Homo sapiens: one gene and its partners. Each later gene encodes a partner of the first gene's protein in a complex. Each region holds a gene or a part of one and is shown on either strand. Other genes may lie near its edges. A codon is read from its position in the direction of its gene.

Region 1 (6,055 bases):
GACATGGGAAACTTTTCATTTTGTTCTGTACTAAGAAAAATTCTTCTGCCTTGGGATCCTGTTGATCTGTGACCTTACCCCCAACCCTGTGCTCTCTGAAACATGTGCTGTGTCCACTCAGGGTTAAATGGATTAAGGGCGGTGCAAGATGTGCTTTGTTAAACAGATGCTTGAAGGCAGCATGCTCATTAAGAGTCATCACCACTCCCTAATCTCAAGTACCCAGGGACACAAACACTGCGGAAGGCCGCAGGGTCCTCTGCCTCGGAAAACCAGAGACCTTTGTTCACTTGTTTATCTGCTGACCTTCCCTCCACTATTGTCCTATGACCCTGCCAAATCCCCCTCTGCGAGAAACACCCAAGAATGATCAATAAAAAAAAAGACTCCATCTCAAAAAAAAAAAAAAGAAAAAAAAATTGTGGCTGTTTGCAAACAAATAAAGAACTTATTTTTAACACACAAAAAGTACAGTATAATCTCTATGCTGTAACAGTAAGTCCATTTTCATTAAATATTTTGATTTTTATTATCTCTCTACAAAGAAACTACAAAAATACCCATAAAAGCATCGAAAATGTACTTTAAAATTCTGAACTGTTATGATACATCTTCTATGATTTACAAGAGTAAAATGTTAAATTCTCCAAGTTAGAATTTCTGAATTGATTTTGACAGGAATTTACTAGAAGTAACCAGAACATCAAAGCTTACAGGTTTTCTATTCATCCCCAATTAAGTTTCTGAAAAGCTACACATCCGTTGACAAGCACAGTCCACTCAGTTACATGATGCTGCCACTAATGGTGAGGCTACTCTGAAGGGCAGAGGTCTATATGATGGAAATGCCCAGCCTTCCAGGCAACTGCTCAAAGTGGTCTTATTTTTTCCCTTATGTGTAAAATAAAAGTACAAATGTACATATGGTAAAAAATGTAAATATTACAGAAAGAGCTAAAATAATAAGTACATAGCCTTTTCTCCCATACCACAGCAAATCTGATGTTTTCAAAATCCTCAAATAGTCACATGAGTAACTCACAAACTAAAGTCAACCTTGGAGTCTCTTTATCTGAAAATTATTTTCAGGCCTTTGGAACGGTGTTGATTGTCTCATATATTACCTCTGTTACAGAGGAAAGTCATGCAGTCTTCTCCTTCTCAAAAAAAAGAAAAATATTTAAAGCAACACACACATACTGTTCAGAGACAGCAAAGTCCAGACAGCATCGCAGAATCCATTGGATCTAGTCATGGCTCTGGAGAGTCCCCGGTATCATCCCTGAAATTAAGGAAGCACACTTACTAACAAGCCATTTTCAAAAGTAAGAAAACTTTCTCTTAATCAAAAAAGAGAAAGTTTTTATTAGAAAGTGTTCTCTTTTATTAGAAAGTTTATTAGAAAGTTTTCTCTTAATCAAAATGAGGTCATCTGATTCTTGTAATCTCAACACTTTGGGAGGCCAAGGCAGGAGTTGCAGTGAGCCACGATGGCAACACTGATGACAGAGACCCTGTCTTATAAAAATAAAACAACAACAATAACAACCAAAAGAAATTAGGGTCATCTGGTTATTATTTAATAGAAAGATATCTTTTATCTAACATTGCACAAAAGGGCACAAACCACATTGTCCCAGGCAGTCAAAACTAGATCAACCTTTACTAGAGAACAAAGGGAAGGCGAGGTGACAAGGGACTATGGATGGAGAAAGGAAATTACTTGAGAAATTCCAGCCCCAGTCCTGTGAAAGAGGATGAGCTTACCCCCTGGCTGAGCAGGAAAGACTGACAGAAACACTGGGTGCAGGAGCTCAGCCGAGTCCCTCCTCAAGGCCCCGGATCCTCCGGGCCAGTTGCACATCCTTTGGGAAGAGAGTAACTCGGCCTGCATGTAAGGTGAGGAGATAGGCGTCCTCAAAGAGATGAACTAGAAATGCTTCTGCTGCCTGGAGACAGAAAGAGAAAAAGACGGACACAGATGAAGGGCCACGGGCTGCTTTTTTTTGGAAACCTGCTAAACTTAATCTCTGAGGGCTCAAAGGATTGTAGGAAACTATTCACAGAATGAGACTGAACTTTGCCAGGGAATTCTGCTATCACCACGCAGAATCCAGCCTCCAAACCCTCAGAGGTTACCTCATTGTTCTTTTCCAGAGGTCAGATTCAGCATGTGACACTCCAGTCAGCACTGGAGAATTCTAGGCTGCCTCTTTCTCCCACTCAGCCCTCACCCAATTGTGCCTTGGTGCCTTCTTACCTCTTGTAGGGCCAATAGGGCCTGGGCTTGCCAATTGAAGTCCACACCACGAGTGAATTTAACACATATTTCTCTTGCCTGTGAAGGAGTGGGGAAGGGGAGGAGTAGGAGTAGGGAGTAACAGAAGAGAGATTCAAGGGACAATGATGCTCTCCATGAGTTCCAGTGAATCTTCCTTTCCATTATTTTTTCCTGGCTCTTAATCTTAGGACCCAATTAGGAGCAGGTGTTGACTCCTGGGAGCTTAGGAACTGGCGGATCTCTTACTGGTGATGGGGAAATCACCAGTAATTGGGTGATGAGAGGCAATCTCCCAGGATAGGAAAAGGGATCTAAGGTGGACAAACGAGAGAGTTCCTATTTATACAGTCAAAAACTACAGTTTTAAAAAGGTAGTAGAGGTTAGAAATCAATTCCATAAAGAATTACAAGGTGCTCTTGGAGGGCTCATGTTTTCAGAAAAGAATCCCCTACCAGGTTACAAAAGAGGTCCCTTGGCCAGTTAGTTAAGAGACAGTAGGGTCCCTAATACCTGGGAAAATTTAAAAAAAGGAGGGTGGCATAGGGGTTGGTGGGAAGCTCCCGGAGCTTACCAGGCGGCTGAAGGGCAGCTTCCTTATCAAGAGGTGTGTGCTCTTCTGAAGCTTTCGGATCTCCTTTAGCCAACCTTGTCTCCGCCGACTGTGTTGATGGGAGGAAGCGCCTGAGCAAAAGAAAGGTAAGTTCAGTGGAAAATAGGTGGTGCCTCGCAGCTTGGCTGAGTCAGGTAAGCTGTCAAATTGCTAGACTATATCTATGTGCCTACCCTCCACAGAGCAGGGATTTTTGTCTGTTTTATTAGGTTGCTGCAAAAGTCATTGCAGTTATGGCAAAAACCACAATACTTTTGCACCAACCTGATATATAGTAATTTTGCTGCTATCTTCAGCAATTAGAAAATAGCAGATAGGTGCTAAATAAACATTTGTTAAATGAATGAGTGAATGATCCTCTGCAGTTGATTTTAAATGCTAACTCTTCCATGAAGTCTTTCCCGAATCCTGATCCTTCCAAACAGATGGGTGACCGCCCTCCTCTGGGCTTTGCAGGACTTTGTACAAGTCTTAGATCTTTCCCACCTAGATTGGAAGCTCAGTTATTTTGGTTTTAGATTTTTTGTTGGTTTGTTTTTTACAGCTGGAAAGAATCTGAGAGACTAGTACAATTCCCTTGTCTTGATCATCCTGAGGCCCAGCGAGGTGAAGATGGTTGGCCAGCCCTCATTAGTGGCCAAGCTGAGACCTGTGTAAGGTGTGGCCTAACTCAGTGTCAGTGTCAGGCACCTGGGCTGTGGAGACAGAGCCTTTGGCTCAAATCCTGGTTCCAACAAGAACAAAAAAGAAAATAATTTTAAAAACATTCCCAAAAGTAGGAATCAAAAAAGCCAAATTCTCTAATTGGAAATTAAAAACTCATGAATCAAAAACCAGTTTCTTCTAACTAACCTGTGTTGAAGAGGAAACTTAATTGAAATTAGACTATTTGGAAATGAATAACAATAAAAAGCCCATATCCCAAAACTTATGAGATACAGCCAAAATAGTACTAGAGGAAAATGCATAGCCTTAAAGTGTTCCTATTAGAAAACAAGAACACTAAAAGGTATCTGAGCCAAGCAGTCAAATTAAGTATTACAGAGTTATTAAAGTAAACCAAAACAAGATAGAACAAAAGAAATATTAGAAAATAAGTTAGTGAAAATAAAGTTAAAGAAAAAACAGCACAGTTGCTCCATAATTACAACCAAGGATCAAGATGAGTGAACATCTGATAAGTTGAACAAACAAAATACAAAAATAACATGTTGACGGATAAAATTGTTTCAGAAATGTTATTCAGGATCCAGCCAAGCAAAGAGACTCTACACCAAGTTCGATAGAAGGCATTTAATACAATAAACTAATCACGAAGTGTTAGAAGAGCTGCAAGAGCAAGTAGGGTAGGTGAGACAATCCAGAGATGGCCTGTGCCAGGCAGCCAGCAGAGGAGACCATCCCTGGGTGAGGCTAGAGAACACAGGCCAATGAAACAGGGCAGTGTCCAGAAGACTGATAACATTTAAAACTGGGAAGACCCATGCCCAGGAGAAAAACTACTGACACCTCCCTCCCTCCCCACCACCAGTTGGCAATCCAGTCACTGGAGGCAGTCTTTAATAAACAGACATAGGGCTGGGTGCGGTGGCTCACGCCTGTAATCCCAGCACTTTGGGAGGCCAAGGTGGGTCAATCACCTGAGGTCAGGAGTTCGAGACCAGCCTGATGAACATGGAGAAACCCATCTCTACTAAAAATACAAAAATTAGCCGGGCATGGTGGCAGGCACCTGTAATCCCAGCTACTTGGGAGGCTGAGGCAGGAGAATTGCTTGAACCCAGGAGATGGAGGTTGCAGTGAGCCAAGCTCGCACCACTGTACTCTAGCCTGGGCAACAAGAATGAGACTGTGTCTCAAACAAAAATATATAAATAAATAAAATAAAATAAAAAAATAAACAAGACATAGCATTCACAGAAAATTTGAAGATGAACACAACTAAAGATCACCCAACAATTTAAGAAGGCCAATACCATGAAAGAAAGGAACCAAACTCAACAAACAAAATAGCCAATACCAGAGGAAATTGAGTTAATAGAGAAAAGAAATAGAAACTTTGAGAGAAAAATGGTTAATGAACTCAGAGAGGTAACAGAGATATGAAATCCATGACCCAAGAACAAGTGGTTATGAAAAGTAACCAATTAGAGAGATCATGGAAAAGAACTGGGATCAAAAATTTAGTAGCTGGGTCTTGAAATGCCAACATGAGGAGATGGAATTTAATCCTACTGTAATAAGAAGCCAGGGAAGAGTTTTATGCAGGATAGAGATGTGGAAGGTCATTCCAGCTGCTGTGTAAGGAAAGAAGTAGAAAGGGACAGAGTGGAAGTGGAGTGGCAGCTGATTAGGAGGCTCTCACAGTTGCTCGAGAGCTGCTGGTAGCTTGGACTAGGCTAGTGGGAGCAGAGATGGTGAAAATGGAGTGATTAAGGATGCAGTTTGGAAGTAGAATTATCTGGACCTGCATTTGTATTGGAGACGGGGGTCTCCCAGGCTTGTGGTTTGAACAACTGGGTGGGTAGTTGTGCCATTTACTGAAATGGGGAAGCTGAGGATGAAGGGGCTGGAGGGGAGTAACCAGAAGTTCAGTTTTGGGTGTGTTAAGTTTAACATAACCAAGAGCCTTCAGGTAGAAAGGCAGTTAGATATAGGTATCTGGGGTCAGAGGAGAGATCCAGGTATACAGATATTTGAGAGCTGTCAATGTATGAGTGGGATTTAGAGCCACGGAGGAGATGAGACCACCTAGGGAGGGGGTAGAAAGGAAAAGGATGTCAAGGAAGTCCAACATCAAGGAGCCGAGGGAGGCAGCACAGGCAGTAGAGAACACCAAGCAGAACTGCCAGAGTGCACAGTGGCATGGAAGCCAAGGGAACAGAACGCTTCAAGGAGAAAGAGGCCCACTGCGTCAAATGCTTCTGAGACACAGTAAGAACACAGACCCACCTACTGGATTTGGCACTACAAAAGGTGCTAGTGACCCTGACAGGAGTAGTTCAAGCAGATTAGAAGTGGGGGTAGTGGTTGTGGGGAGTCAGATTGGAGTGGGTTGTAGGGTCACTAGGAAGGGAGGAATCAGATGCAATGTATGTGGACCTAACAAGTCTGGCTATTTTAAAAGGACAGCTATGAAGGGAAGTAGAGGGAAATGGGAGGT
Region 2 (7,267 bases), on another chromosome or scaffold:
GTGCCTCTCCCAGCCCCTCCCGGCTGCCTCTGGGCCGCTTCAGGGTCATTGTGATCCGCCCCTCACCCCTGGGCATCTGAGTAGCAGTGGGCACTGAGGCCTGGGGACTAAGGGTGGGGCTATTGTGCCCTGGATGCCCTGGCCGCAGCCACCTGGGGCACTGGGACTCTGACCAGGGCAGCCAGGCCTACCCTTTCCAGATCTGGGAGGCTTAGGCTGGGTGGCTCTGGAAGTAGAACTTCCACCCCAAGACCAGGCAGTCAGAATACAATGGACCTAGAAATGAACAGACCCTGCGGGGCACGGTGTCTCACGCCTGTAATCCCAGCACTTTGGGAGGCCGAGGCGGGCGGATCACCTGAGGTCAGAAGTTCAATACCAGCCTGGCCAACATGGTGAAACCTCGTCTCTACAAAAAATACCAAAATTTGCCATGCATGGTGTTGTGCACCTATAATCCCAGCTACTTGGGAGGCTGAGACAGGAGAATCGCTTGACCCTGGGAGGCGGAGGTTGCAGTGAGCTGAGATCATGCCACTGCACTCCAGCCTGGGTGACAAAGCGAGACTCCATCTCAAAAATAATAATAATAATAATCCAAGGTCTGGGTGCTAGGTGTGCTTCTTGCTATTGAGATGTCATTTCTTTCAGGCAGTCTCAGCTGACAAAGAAATGTGTGTGTATACTATGAAACACACACATATCTATAAATATTTCTATAGGTAACCATCTGTACTTATATTAAGCTAAACATGAGCTCATGCTGACATCTCCAACTCTAATCCGTTACACAGATCATTTGAGACTCTGTCTCACAAAAAAAAAAGAGGCCAGGTTCCAGTGGCTCATACCTGTAATCCTAACACTTTGGGAGACCGAGGCAGGTGGATTGCCTGAGCTCAGGAGTTCGCAATCAGCCTGGGCCACATGGTGAAACCCCGTCTCTACTAAAATACAAAAAAATTAGCCGGGCGTGACAGCGTGTGCCTGTAGTCCCAGCTACTTGGGGGGCTGAGGTAGGAGAATTGCTTGAACCCGGGAGGCGGAGGTTGCAGTGAGCCGAGATCACGCCACTGCACTCCAGCCTGGGCAACAGAGTGAGACTCCATCTCCATAAAAAAAAAAAGAAAGAAAGAGCCGGGCACGGTGGCTCACGCCTGTAATCCCAGCACTTTGAGAGGACAAGGCGGGTGGATCATGAGGTCAGGAGATCGAGACCATCCTGGCTAACACGGTGAAACCCTGTCTCTACTAAAAATACAAAAAATTAGCTGGTTGTGGTGACGGGTACCTGTAATCCCAGCTACGCGGGAGGCTGAGGCAGGAGAATGGCGTGAACCCAGGAGGCGGAGCTTGCAGTGAGCGGAGATCGCGCCACTGCACTCCAGCCTGGGCGACAGAGCAAGATTCCATCTCAAAAAAAAAAAAAGAAGGAAGGAAGGAAGGAAGGAAGAAAAGAAATTAACAGACCCACTTTCAAGTCCATGGTCTGCTGTTTTGCTGTGTGATCCTGGAGAAGTGTCTTCTTTCTCAGGACTCCCTGGGCCTTATCTCTGAGTCTTGGCTGGGAGAGGGCCGAGAGGAAGCTCATAGTATTGTGAAGCTGGGGTGGGAGACAGAGGTCATTTACATGAGTATTTCACTGGCGTGGCATAGTTTCATAATTTGAAAATGAAGAAACGACTTTGTAATTCAAATAACAGAGTGACTCACTAGAGAACGCGTCGCCAAAGATATATTCTATTTTCTGTCAATGCTTCTCACCAGGGATGGAGGGACATACTTTCCTGGAGAGCTACAATATTGAGTGGGGGAGGGAGATATTTTTGTATTTATTTAAAGGGTATGTGTCTTTTTTAATGGCTGCGAAACACCAGATTAACTAGACGGTTTCTTTTTTTCTTTTCTTTTCTTTTTTTTTTTTTTGGAGACGGAGTCGCGATCTCAGCTCACTGCAAGCTCCGCATCCTGGGTTCACCCCATTCTCCTGCCTCAGCCTCCCGAGTAGCTGGGATTACAGGTGCCCACCACCACGCCCGGCTAATTTTTTTGTATTTTTAGTAGAGACGGGGTTTCACCGTGTTAGCCAGGATGGTCTCGATCTCCTGCCCTTGTGATCCACCTGCCTCGGCCTCCCAAAGTGCTGAGATTACAGGCGTGAGCCACTGCGCCTGGCCTAACTAGATGGTTTCTAAGGAGCCCTCCAGCCCTTGCACTCTGCAAATATTTATCAAGGAACTACTATGTGCTAGGCTTGGGAATTCAGAGATGCCAGAGGCTTTGAGGTCAGGGAGCCGGCCAGTCCTGGGAAGGCCTTGGAGCGTGGCTGTGGGGAAGGGGCTTGCTCTTCTGTTGACAGGAAATAAGACAGGGCTGGATTTTTAGGCATACAGAGAGCTTGGATCAGAGCTGCCCCCTGGCGGAGGATTCCGGACACCCCCACCGATTGAAATTGCCCAGGATCAATCCCTTTGCTTAAAGACACAGAAAATGAAGCTTGGGAGAGGGGCTCAGACCAGGGGTAGCAGTTGTGACCTAGAATAGTCTAGAGGGTATGCCAAATAAGATGCACATACACACATCCTGCGGACTCAATGCAGAAGGGGCTTTTTAGCATCCCCTTTCTACCGTAGCTTTCAACACATTTAGAGCAAACACACTTTAAGCACCTTCTGTGTGCGTCGCCCAGAGGAAGGAACACCAGGATAGTATTATTATTATTTTATTTTTGAGACAGAGTTTCGTTCTTGTCACCCAGGCTGGAAAGCAATGGCGCGATCTAGGCTCATTGCAACTTCTGCCTCCTAGGTTCAGGCTATTCTCCTGCCTCAGCCTCAGAGTAGCTGGGACTACAGGCATGCACCACCATCCCTGGCTAATTTTGTATTTTTAGTAGAGACGGGGTTTTGCCATGTTGGCCAGGCTGGTCTCAAATTCCTGACCTCAGGTGATCCGCCTGCCTTGGCCTCCCAAAATGCTGGGATTAGAGTCGTGCACCACCGTGCCCTGCCAACACAAGGATATTATTAATAGTATAGGAAAAATGAACTTAAGATGGATATTGTCATTATAACAGCTTCCATTTCCTGAGAACCCACTGCAGGTGCTGAGCTGAAGGTCTGACGTGCAATGTCCCACAAGTTTAACCCTCTCAGAGCATCAGAAGTTGAGTAATTATTACGTTGCTCAACTTCCTCTTCTGACAGGAGACTGAAGCTCGGAAATGTTAACAGGCTCTACCCACCTGCAAGCTCCCGTTTCCATCACCGCTGCCTCGGAGATAGCTCCAGAATTTCTTTGCATGGGAGGAGCCTAGGGAAGGGCCACGCTTTTGGAATGGAAACGTCATGGGCTTGTTTTGCTCATTTCAGTGGGAATCCCATGGCACTGCCGAGAGTATTTCTTTTTATTTTATTTATTTTGGGGGGTCGGTATTATTTTAAGATGCTAATGGAGATGGGTGGATTTGAGGACCAATGGCTTTTTTTTCCCTTTTTACTCAAAGCCCGCACAACACACTCGTTTTTAGAAGTCCAGCCTGCAGCCTCCAAACGAACTGTTGTACGTGCTGGGGACGGGGAGAGGGCGACGCTGCGGCTCTTTTCCGTTCGGGAGGTCCTTCTAGATTCCCAAAAGTCAATTTAGTCAAGTTTTGAGCTGTAACCTGTGTTGGGCGCGGTGGCTCACGCATGTAATCCCAGCAGTCTGGAAGGCCGAGGTGGAAGCCTCGCTTGAGGCCAGGAGTTCAAGATCAGCCTGAGCAACAGGGTGAGACCCCGTCTCTAATTTTTTTTTTTTAAAGAAGTCAAATTAGGCCAGGTGCGGTGGCTCACGCCTATAATCCCAACACTTCGGAAGGCAGAGGCGGGCGGATCACTTGAAGTCAGGAGTTCGAGACCAGCCTGGCCAACATGGTGAAAACCCGTCTCTACTAAAAATACAAAAATTAGCTGGGTGTGGTAGCTCACGCCTGTAGTCCCAGGTACTCTGGAGGCTGACGCAGGAGAATCGCTGGAACCTGGGAGGCAGAGGTTGCGGTGAGCCGAGATCGCGCCACTGCACTCCAGCCTGCTTGACAGAGCAAGATTCTATCTCAAAAAAAAAAAAAAAAAAATTTAAATTATTTTTCAAAAGAAGTTAAGTTAAATCCGGAGCCCGCGCGGGGGAGGGGCGAGCTGAGCGAGGGGGTGGAGCCAGCCATGGGCCCGCCCCTAAACGCCCGGAAGTGACGTTGGCGGACAAAGGCAGCGCGCGCCGCGAGCTGTCGCGTCTGGTCGTGGTCTGGCGGAGCTGCGGTTGGCTTGTGGCGTCTCCGCCGCCGCCGCCCTCCCTTCCTCTTCCCCATCTTCTTCTCTCGGTCCCGGGAGCCCCCGCCCGGAGTGAGTAGCGCGAGGCGGTGCGAAGGGTAGGCAGCCGCTGGGAGAGGGGAGGCTGCGACCCCTAACTGTTTCGGCGCCCTGAGGTCCCGGGTCCCCGGCTCGTCACGTGACCCGGCGCGTGCGCGCGGGCCGGCACAGGCCTCACGTGCGCGTCCCCAAGAGGTCTACGGGCCGGACCTGGGCAGGGACTACGGAGCAGTCCATGGGTCGGGGTACAGGAGGAAAGTCAAGGCACTCAAAGCCCAGGCAGGGCACTCCCCCACCCCGGTCCCCAGACCGCAGCAAATCCCTTTCTCTGAGCCTGTTTCCCTTCCGAGAAACAGGGATATGGAGAGCGCCCACTTGGAGGATGGATGGGAGGAATCGGTAAAATCGGTAAAATGCCCAGTTCAGAGCCTGGCACAGTTAAGTGCCCGCTGCACAGAAGTTGCTGTCGTATTTAACCTTGGGTGCCACCCGAGCGCCAGCCCGACACAGGTGCAGCTCAAAAAAGACAGCCCGAGAGCCCTTGCGGCCAAGGTCAGCCTGTCTGCAGGGAGGCTGCCATATCGAAAAGCCCAGACTTTGCTGCGCACCAACTGTGTGATCTCTCCCTCTGGACTTTGGTTTCTCCTCTGTACTATAAGTGATTGCCACAACTGGTGTCAGAGGCCCTGACAGCGGGGAGGGACAGTGTAACCGGTGGTTGTGGTGTGTAGAATGATTGCCCAGTGAGATGGGATGAGCCTCTGGGAGGAACCAGGGCTGGTATAAGGAGCCTGGATTCCCTCCTTAATTCTGTTCTCGGCTTCCTGTTTGTATGTTTAAAGACACGTCACTTCCTTTAGTGTGCTGGTTTTTCTCTATGTAAACTGAGGACTGTGCGGGGGTTGGAAGGATGCATGGAGCGTTTTGGTGGAGGCCGGAAGCCCTAGGATCACAAGGATGGCATCTAAAAAATCTCGGTGGGGGTTCTGTGCTTATAGGCAGAGGAAGCTCACTCCCCACTCTGGCTGATTTGCAGAGCTGTTTGAGTCTGCTGGCTTGGCCGCCCAGCATACCAGTAACAGTCCCCTAGGTGTGTCCAATACAGCTTCTGTGGCATTCTAAGGCAGTTTTCCCATTTGATCCTCATAGTGGGCAGAGTTGACAAGAATCTCATTTGACAGAGATTTCTAAGCTCAAGAGAGAATATGTGCCCGGCACTGTGCAAAGCACTTTAAGCTTTTCATATGCACTTTTAATCACAGCCTTTCTGTAAAGTCGGTATTACTGTTCCATTTTATAGGTGAACTGAGGAATGGTGAGGTTTAATGTCTTGTCTGTGCTTACACAGCAGGTGTGCAGAGCCAAGATTCAGATCTGGTTCATCTGGCTCCATCAGAGCCTTTGTTAGTTTTTAAATGTATCCCCTGTTTTGTCTTCTTCCCTCCCTTTCTCACTTCCTTCTTTTTCTTAGAGCACTCTGCCGTTTGCATGTGGCCTGCTGCTGTCCACAAAGATCCAGGGAGGATGGACTCTGTCCACTAGGCTGCTAGAGGGTGGAGGTAACTTTTAGGCAGGCTTTTCCGTAGAGACTTACGTGAGGAGGATGAGATGACTGCAAAAGTCTGCCGGTGACAGTTTCAGCACTGTTTTCTTCCATGGGTCGTGGGAGAAGAGATGCAGTACCTTGGGTCTGAACACCTTGGCGGGGAGGAGGAGGCAGCAGCCAGGTGACTGTGAAGGATGTAGGATCACATTTACTGGCTGAGCAGCCATTTACCAGGCATGAGGGGTTTGTCTTCCTCTCTGAGCTAGCCTAGAGTGCACACAAAGCCCGTGTGCTCCTGGCCCCCTCCCAGGCCCTTCAGCCACATACGGCATCTGTGCTCTGGAGCAGAGTGTAGCAGGACCACCTGCTGTTGGCTGACTGACCTTGCTGTTCCCTCAGACTCTTAGGGACCTCCTCCTGCCCCACTCCAATCTGGACACCACGAGGCAAAATGTAGCCAGGACCCCAGGAATCCCGTTTATTAATGAATCAGCTGTTAGGGCAGATGTCAAAGTCAGGCTTGCTATTTCCCGGCCAGGATGTGCCTCCCCTGGCTTGTTCCCAGAATTTGCGTGTAAGTGGAATTCTTGTAAATTAGATTATTCAGGGGACCCTGACATTTAAAGGAATCATGTTACAAGGCTTTTGGTAAAGCACAGAATTATATTGTCGGTAGCAGCCTTCAGGCCTTCAGTATTTACCAGTTCTGAATGGTTGGACTTTTGTCTGTAGGATTTTCTTAGAGTGGAAAATGGCTATAGCTGCACAAAGCCCATTCTTGCATTATTTGGCAACCAGTTAGTCAATGCCCACCTGGTATCAGGCACTGGGCTAATGGTGTACAAGGTAATGTCTCTACCCCCAGGAAGCTGCATGCTGGGAGAGGAGACGGATGGAGTCCAGCCTGGTATGTGTTTGCCCCCAGATTTATTCTGTTCATTTGATCAGAGGTGAACTTTCTGTTGAATATTTGTGTTTCATGGGATGCAAGAGAAGCATGGTGATAAATCTCAAATGTTGCCACTGCTCTCAGGAGCTCCCCGGCCAGGCGAGAGAGAGAACTGAATACAAAACCTTCAGTTTGCCAAGTTGGGCGGTGAGAGGGAGACAGGCTTGCTCTCGCCATGGTCCAGTCTGAATGGGAGTTGTGCCAGCATGGTGTGGAAGAGTAGTAGTTCGTTTTTTAACCTTTGTCTTTAATTTTCCCAGCCACCAAGTGTTTTTTGTTTTTTGAGACAGGGTCTCGCTCTGTTGTCCAGGCTGGACTCAAACTCCTGGGCTCAAGCAGTCTTCCCACCTCAGCCTCCCAAAGGGCTCAGGTTATAGGTTATAGGTTATAGAGTAGTTTTGAATGCCGTCCTCTCTTGAGTGACTG
Region 3 (7,548 bases), about 210 Mb from region 1:
AAAGGAAGCCACAAATAGCTAATTGCCTATCAACAGGAGAGCAGTTAAAAAAACATGATTTTTTAAATAATTATATAATTTTATAATTATACAACAGTTGATGAAGAGAAGAGTTTGCCAGATGTATTAACCGGAAAAGTGAGGGAGAAAAAAATGCATTTATAAAGATATGTATTATAGGGAATCACATTGTACTAAAATAGCATTAGTGACCATCTTTGCAGAGAGGAATCAGCTCATTTATGTAGTTGTATGTACTTTTAACATTTTTATGACTAGAATAATTAATCAAGAAGATTTGATTTCAAATTTGCTGTTAATATCGTCACATTGATCTTGATGTTTTTCATTCTTTCATACAGGTTCCTTGACCTGTGACCACAGAGAGGAACCATGTGGCATCTGAGAGGCAGTGATTAACTGAATACCAGATAACCTGGCAAAAGCCACTGTGGCAAAAGGGCTCCTGGATGCCCCCGTAGAAAGGCCAACAGCACCTTCCACTAAAATAACGGGTCTCAGAGCGACAACACCCTCGGATCAACTAGGCAGGGAAGCCAGGGTCTTCCGAAGGTAGAAAAATGCAGAAGGAAAGATGTGTGATCCTCCAGGCTGCACCTCTCCTCATCTCTCTTCCTCCCCTTTCAAAACAGGAAGAGAGACATTCTTCTTCCCTAGAAGGAACTGGATTTGGTATTTTCTGTAAGGACCCAAACAAAGTGAGTGCCTCGCTGGGCTGGCACGTGACCTTGGGGAGGGTTACCCAACTGGCCCAGCCTCTGCACATGTATTATCAGAGCCCCTCAGCCTGTGACACAGGAAACACAGGGTGATGAAAAAGGCCAAATATTACACAGTGACTCCTTGCACTTGACAAGCTACAGAAGAAATGCTTCTAAATCCTTAAAAACAGAAAGAGTATAATCATGAGAAAAAGTGCCCCGTGGTGGCCTCTGCGTAAGCTCAGAGGTTGGGCATACCCACACCTTTATTCATATGAATACTCCTCCACAGCAAGGTTATTTGGCAATAAAATTTGACACTAAATACCTGGATCTCTCCTTCGTTTCTTTCCTTTATTAGTCTTCCACCCCAAATTCTCAATCCTGAAGAAAAGAAACAAAAATGACCATTTACATAATCCTGAACGCTGAACTTCTGCTCAATCTGTGTTCACCAGATGCCAAAGTGACAGGCAAAAAAAAGGTACAATATTAAAACCAAGCCAGGTTTCTGATACCCTGCGATTGTTCCTCTTTGTAAAGTTTCAGGTTTTTAAGGCAAATTCGTCATTCATGGAAATCTCTCCTACCTACTAGAAAACGGCTCATCAAATTACATCATTAGCCCAAAAAGTTAAATGAAAACAAGGAACATATGACAGCGACTGTCCTTAAAATATATAGAGGGCAATCTATATACCATATAGAGGGAGTAAGCACTTTTCGCAGGCAATCTCTACATCCCATATACTGAATGAATGCTTTCTAAGGGCAATCTACATGTTATACAGAGACCAAAGGGTAGCAGACCTGCCACTGGAATATTTTAGTTTCTGCCTGTGTAAACTTTTCACCCAAGATGTGTCTGGATTGGCTATAAAGGCAGAAAGGTAGGATTTCTTTTAACTCAAGGAGCAGATCTTGTGAACCTTCTGTGTCCGTTTAATGCAACATAGAACTTGCTCTGAGGTTTGTTTTCATTAAGTGATACTGAGTTAGTTATAAAGCTATATGGGAGGAATTGACCCCAGCCAGTGCAAAGTGTCACCAGCTATTTACCAAAAAGAATCCACAAGATTTCAGTCCGTTTACATTAACTATTAAACGGAATGCCTTCTCCTCCCTATTCAAGTACTTGGAGCCTCAAGGAAGACAGTTACTACTCCAAGTTAAACAGGGCAAACAATAGTCAATGTGAGTATTCACAGTGCGGGGCGGGGTACTGTTCACAGTTTCATAGGGATTGTACGTGACTGTTACAACACCCACGCCCAGGAGACATTATTGTCATCATCCTTCCCATTTCACAGATGAAGACACTGAGACCAGTCCAGCTAAGCAACTGCCCCACGCTGCCATGGTGGGGAGGTGGCCAGCGGGGATGCCAACCCGGTAAGCCGGAGGCATGTGAGCCAGGAGGCACCTATGTCTCTTCAGGAATTGTTCTAATAAGTAATTCAAGTAATTTACAGGTTTAAGGGCACCAATGTTTTGGTTCCTATTAGTTAGGTGAACAATGTTTACTTCTTAAGAGAGCAGGGACAGCATTTCAACTACTCCATTCACACTCTTCACCCGAATACTCAGAAGGTGGGGAAGACCCTTACCCTGTGGCGTCTCGTAGGTCAGCGTGGCCATTTGCACCACCGGGGTGTCCTCGAAGGGCTGGTTGTACTGCGGAGGAGGAAGGGGCTTCCTGTCAGGTTCCAGGGCCACGAGGGGCCCCAGACCCGGGAGGAGGCGGCGCCAGCCCGTGAGAGGCCGTTAGTCTGGCCTGGGGCGCCCCAAACGCGGTCTCTGCAGCGGAGCCCCCAACTCCGCCTCTCTCGTCCCACTCAGGAGCACCCCCAGCCCCACCAAACCCTCCTCTCTGCACCCGAGCCCCAGGCCTGCTTCCCCACTCCCCGTTCCGGAGGCCCCAGTCTTTCCTCCCCGTCCCCGCACCGAAGCCTTCGGCGCTGCCTCCTTTTTCCCTCTCCGGAGCCCCCAGCTCCGCCTCCACCTTCTCTCCGCATCCAAGCCCCAGTCCCGCTTCCCCAACCCCCGCTCCGAGTCCTCAGAGCCCCTTCCCTTCCCGTCCTACGTCCCCTCCCAGCCTCACTCCGACACGCAGGCCTCCCCTCCCGGCGGACCGGCGGGGGCCGCACCTTCTCTATCAGCCGCTGCATGCGCCTCTGGAAGCGGCGGCGACTGGCCCTGAGCTTCTGCAGCAGCTGGTCGTCTTCCACGTCCTCGCCCTCCATGGCGCGCAGCGTACCCAGCATCGGACCCAGCCAGTACCCAAGCGCCAACCCGGACTGCAGGGCCTCGCGCGCCACAAACTCAAATAGGAGACTCCGCCCTCCCTGCCTTCCTCTCGGTTTTCTATTGGCTAGAGCGGAGAAGCCGGGCACTGATTGGGCCTTTCAAACAAATTTGCGTCCCACCTTCCGGCCAATCCACTCCCGAGTTTCCAGCCACGCCCCAATGTCCGGCGGAAGGGAGGGAGGGTCTCCGGCCGCCACGGCCGGTGGTAGTTGTACAAACAGCTGTGTGCTTATTCATCAGCGGTGCTGTGCGAGATCCGGTGGGATGCGTGTCATCTCCCGCGCTGTGCACCGGAGATAAGTGCGGCCTGGAGATTTCTGCGTGACTTGCTCTGGGTGTCGCCGCTGGGCGAGGTCCGCCTTCCTCACCCCTCCGCCTGGGATCCCGGCGCAGTTTCCAGGGCAGGGGCCTAAGAAAGACAACCCCAAATTACCAACCCAAAAGGAGGCAGGATAGCGAATATTCATCTAGAAGGAAAAAATAAGTCTCAACGAATGACACATTTAAAGATGCTGACAAATGCGATACACATCACAAAATCCAGGAAAATACTTCTATTAACCCAGCTTTTTCCCTATGTATTTCTGATTGCATATTCTGCTTCTTCATTGATATTAATCTTGTAATATTTTCTCCAGAGAGAAGAGCAAGATAAATCAGTCTTTAGTATGGTTGATGGAATTTATGATTGACATCTTAGGAAAGTTTCATTCAGCTTCATCACTTAACCACATTTGTGTGCTTGTGCTGATATGATTACCATAGTATGTGATTGAAAATAAAAGCATTACTGAGCACCAGGAGGTCCCTTAGAGGGGGCTCTTCACCTCCTTTCAGCCTGCACGGCAATTCTATCATGATGTCCTGCGGAAATTTAGGTGGGAGTGGGTGGAGGGTAAGAACTTCAGGGCTCATGTAGTGTGTGTGTCCACAAAACGTGTTGCGTTGTGCTGGACACAGAGATGTGCTGGCCTGATTCCCCTTAAGATGCCACAGCTGCTAGGAGGGCAGTTGGCAGGGGCCTTCAGTTGTCAGCCTATTCTGGGATGATTCAGTTGCAGAGAACTCCCTCACCCAAGGTCCTGCTGCCCCAGGGTGGCCCAGCACCAGTGACTGATCCAGGTGGGAACAGGAAGGCTGTATCATTTCAGTCTGATGGAAGAAAACCCTGGGCCACTTTATCTTCCGAGCTCTCAATTCCACGGAATTGGATGGGGTAACCTACCAATCCTGTTTCTTTCCTTCCCTTCCTCCCTATATAAACATCCTCTCTGAGTCTTCTCCAGTTGCAGGATCTACACATTTAACTTGTACCTTTTCCAATTTTCACAAACAGACCGAGGTGTCTTCCTCCTCCTTCCTTAGGAGTGTTCAGAAACTTAACATGCTCTTCCTTGGACTCTGTGCTTCCCACACATAATTTACTTTTCAAACATCTAACTGGGCCCATTTAGAGACTTGAGACCTTGAATAAGATTTTCTTTTTTCTTTTTGAGTTTTGGATGATTGACTCTTCCATTGTTACCAGATAGAGTTGTCCAGGTTCTTGGTGTGTTGAACAAAGAATTGAACAAAACACACAAAGTAACAAAGGAATGAAGCAACGAAAAACAAAGCAACAGGAGAACGGAGTAAGGAAAGCACAGATTCATTGAAGACAATTCACAGAGTGCGAGCGGACTGGAGCCCGCAGCTCAAGAGCCTCTTCAATTAGGGTTTTTATAAAGCCAAAAGAACTTGGCAACACCCCTGGGTACCCTTTAGAGGCCTCCAATTGGTTACACCCTATGAAGGATTGGCCTGTGACCAATCAGAGCCTAAAGTGGAAACTTGGCCTGCAGTCATTCAGGGGCTGAAGTGGAAACTTCTTTCTTGTTATCACGGGAGTGAAGATGTAGCCTATGTCCTGCCCAATCTTGCTTAAAACTGGCTGCACCTGCTGTTCTCTTGCTTATGCGAACTGGCTGCATCTGCTGTTCCTTTGCTTATGCCTCAACCCTTTGCTACCCCAGTTCCCTATTCTCCTGCCTCACCATGACTCTCTAACAAGCACGATAGTACCAGTTTTCAAAACTGGCGTCTCCCAGGGCTTATTCTCTATTCCTGGGAAACCATTCCAAGATTTCCTTTGCTGGCTTCACTGACAATCCAAGCATCTGCCTCTGTCCTAGGAGTTTGGGGGCAGCTTCAGTGGAAAGATTTCTCAATCTCAAGTTCAAGTCTTTAATTGAAGTCCAAAACATACTTGCTTTAGCCAAACTCCTTCTGAGCCAGCCAAAGTCCATGCATTAACCCTTATTGTTCTGGCCTGGTGGTCTTCCAGTCGTCTCTGACTGGCTTTCCCCATCCCATGGTCTAAAGTGGTGCTCCAGCTAAAGAAAGAAGAACCCTGTATCATGCTTCTCATGTGATGCTGTAGCAGGACAAGCCGCAGACAAAACCCCTCAGACACCGAGTTAAAGAAGGAAGGGCTTTATTCAGCTGGGAGCTTCGGCAAGACTCACGTCTCCAACAACCGAGCTCTCCCGAGTGAGCAATTCCTGTCCCTTTTAAGGGCTCACAACTCTAAGGAGGTCCATGTGAGAGGGTCGTGATCGATTGAGCAAGCAGGGGGTAAGTGACTGGGGGCTGCATGCATCAGTAATTAGAATGGAACAGAACGGGACAGGGATTTTCACAGTGCTTTTCTATACAATGTCTGTAATCTATAGATAACATAACCGAGTAGGTCAGGGGTCGATCTTTAACTACCAGGCCCAGGGTGTGGCGCCAGGCTGTCTGCTTGTGGATTTCATTCCTGCCTTTTAGTTTTTACTTCTTTCTTTAGAGGCAGAAATTGAGCATAAGGCAATATGAGGAGTGGTCTCCTCCCTTAATGCCATTCTCTGTAACACCTCACCCTACCACCCTTGGCAGCCTAACCATATTACTCCAGACCTGCTAAGCAAACTCCTTTGCCACCACTTTCCACTCCCACATAACAGGGAAGGATCACAAGTCAGCTCCTTCCCCAGCAGCAGGTTTCTGGGTGCAGCATCTTGGAATCTCACAGGGTTTCCAGAGATGACGGCGGGTGGCTCCGGCTGCCCCTGCACAGTGCCCTCTACTGGCCGGGCTGGGATTTCCAACCCTCCAAGTGCTGTTTAAATGCCTAGGAAATAGTTCTCTTTAAAGTTATATTACGGCTGCTCTTATAAAATGTGCCTGAATTTTGCTTCAAATAAAAGAGATGGAGACTTATTCTGCATGGAGTTGTCATGTAAATATGTTTCTGTTGGAAAGGTGTGGAAATGTTACCACCAGTCTGTGGTTGGAGAAGCGCAGCTTTTGGCTGGTCCCAGCATTGACACAGAAACTGCTGTGTAACGGTGAGAATGTCAGTCTAAGATAAATTATCGCAAACATCAGACCCCACCTATTAGGCTGCTAAGAAAAGGGTTTGCTTTTTTCTGTTGCCCTAGAGCTGATGCAAACACAGAGGCTGTGAAATAGGCAACAAGCTGACTTTCCACGAGATGTCAGCCAAAGCTCACAAAATGTGTTGTTTGATTGAATGAGTCTCACATCTAACTGAAGTAATTAAGGATGCTGGCAAGAATTTAGCTGGAGGATCTTTCGTGAAGCAGTTTATAAAGTCCAATACTAGAAGGATGGCAAAATAAATGATGATAGATACTTGTGTTCTATTGGCAAGAATTTTGAAGAAGTGTAATTATTGATATCAAAATTCTATATGATCTGTTTAATACAAAAAGGTTATAAACCTGTATTATGTGTGCATTTAAAAAGTATATATTATATAATATAAAGTATGATTATACATGTTTTAAAAGTGTGAGTATATACGTCTCAGAATGTTTCCAGGGCCGTCTCTGGATGATGGTGTGATGAATTATTTTTAATATTAGTTTTCCATAGCTGCATTTTCTAGAATGAGCGTTTGCTGTGCAATTATGAGTTTGCATTACTGATGTAATTAGAAAACACAGGGGGCCAATTATCTTAGTTCATTTTGTGCTGCTATAATAAAACCTGAGAGTAATGAACCTGTAATTTATAATGAACAGAAATTTATTTCTCACAGATCTGAAGACTGGTGAGTCCCAGCCAGACTGAGTGATTGGCCTGTGGTGAGGGTCTGAGTGATTGGCCTCTGGCGATGGTCTTCTTGCTGTGCCATCTCATGGTGTAAAGTAGGAGAACAAGAGAGGGCAAGAGAGAGCAAAAGGGAGCCAAACTCATTCTTTTTTTTTTTTTTTGAGACAGTCTTGCCCTGTGACCCAGGTGGAGTACAATGGCATGATCTCAGCTCACTGCAACCTCTGCCTCCTGGGTTCAAGTGATTCTCCTGCCTCAGCCTCCTGAGTAGCTGAGATTACTGGTGCGTGCCACCACACCTAGCTAATTTTTTGTATTTTTAGTAGAGATGGGTTTGGCCAGGCTGGTCTCAAACTCCTGACCTCAAGTAATCCACCCACCTCAGCCTCACAAAGTGCTGGGATTACAGCCACTGTGCCCA

Evidence for each region. Proteins that work in one complex are often made in the same cells at the same time.
Region 2: the proteins of CENPA (region 1) and NTMT1 are in contact, whole or in part, in a crystal structure (PDB 5CVD), measured with the Homo sapiens proteins. Residues at the interface, in NP_001800.1 of Homo sapiens: Gly2, Pro3, Arg4, Arg5, Arg6, Ser7; in NP_001273725.1 of Homo sapiens: Tyr19, Trp20, Met30, Leu31, Gly32, Tyr34, Ile37, Trp136, Asn168, Ile175, Asp177, Asp180, Asp212, Glu213, Ile214, Tyr215.
Region 3: the proteins of CENPA (region 1) and HJURP are in contact, whole or in part, in a crystal structure (PDB 3R45), measured with the Homo sapiens proteins. Residues at the interface, in NP_001800.1 of Homo sapiens: Lys64 (codon at 2,874), Leu65 (codon at 2,871), Ser68 (codon at 2,862), Arg69 (codon at 2,859), Arg72 (codon at 2,335), Asp83 (codon at 2,302), Phe84 (codon at 2,299), Asn85 (codon at 2,296), Trp86 (codon at 2,293), Gln87 (codon at 2,290), Ala88 (codon at 2,287), Gln89 (codon at 2,284), Leu91 (codon at 2,278), Leu92 (codon at 2,275), Ala93 (codon at 2,272), Glu96 (codon at 2,263), Ala97 (codon at 1,949), Ala100 (codon at 1,940), Phe101 (codon at 1,937), His104 (codon at 1,928), Glu107 (codon at 1,919), Asp108 (codon at 1,916), Leu111 (codon at 1,907), Leu112 (codon at 1,904), Leu114 (codon at 1,898), His115 (codon at 1,895), Ile132 (codon at 1,844), Glu136 (codon at 1,832); in NP_060880.3 of Homo sapiens: Glu14 (codon at 2,947), Asp15 (codon at 2,944), Leu18 (codon at 2,935), Lys21 (codon at 2,926), Leu22 (codon at 2,923), Ser25 (codon at 2,914), Arg26 (codon at 2,911), Arg28 (codon at 2,905), Phe29 (codon at 2,902), Arg32 (codon at 2,893), Met33 (codon at 2,890), Leu36 (codon at 2,881), Lys39 (codon at 2,872), Tyr40 (codon at 2,396), Pro43 (codon at 2,387), Phe44 (codon at 2,384), Thr47 (codon at 2,375), Pro48 (codon at 2,372), Val49 (codon at 2,369), Val50 (codon at 2,366), Gln51 (codon at 2,363), Met52 (codon at 2,360), Ala53 (codon at 2,357), Thr54 (codon at 2,354), Leu55 (codon at 2,351), Ile65 (codon at 1,098), Trp66 (codon at 1,095), Gly67 (codon at 1,092).

What each region holds. Positions count from the first base shown.
Region 1 is NC_000002.12:26,789,039-26,795,093, reverse strand, and holds the end of CENPA (histone H3-like centromeric protein A), read right to left. Parts: intron 2,964-6,055; coding exon 2,854-2,963; intron 2,339-2,853; coding exon 2,261-2,338; intron 1,950-2,260; coding exon 1,815-1,949; 3' UTR 1,768-1,814; intron 1,283-1,767; 3' UTR 505-1,282; downstream 1-504. UniProt on the Homo sapiens protein: Histone H3-like nucleosomal protein that is specifically found in centromeric nucleosomes. Replaces conventional H3 in the nucleosome core of centromeric chromatin that serves as an assembly site for the inner kinetochore.
Region 2 is NC_000009.12:129,621,917-129,629,183, forward strand, and holds the start of NTMT1 (N-terminal Xaa-Pro-Lys N-methyltransferase 1), read left to right. Parts: upstream 1-4,246; 5' UTR 4,247-4,379; exon of another isoform or gene 4,380-6,799; intron 6,800-7,267. UniProt on the Homo sapiens protein: Distributive alpha-N-methyltransferase that methylates the N-terminus of target proteins containing the N-terminal motif [Ala/Gly/Pro/Ser]-Pro-Lys when the initiator Met is cleaved.
Region 3 is NC_000002.12:233,851,515-233,859,062, forward strand, and holds the start of HJURP (Holliday junction recognition protein), read right to left. Parts: upstream 3,022-7,548; 5' UTR 2,987-3,021; coding exon 2,870-2,986; intron 2,397-2,869; coding exon 2,330-2,396; intron 1,108-2,329; exon of another isoform or gene 1,107-1,107; coding exon 1,051-1,106; exon of another isoform or gene 1-1,050. UniProt on the Homo sapiens protein: Centromeric protein that plays a central role in the incorporation and maintenance of histone H3-like variant CENPA at centromeres.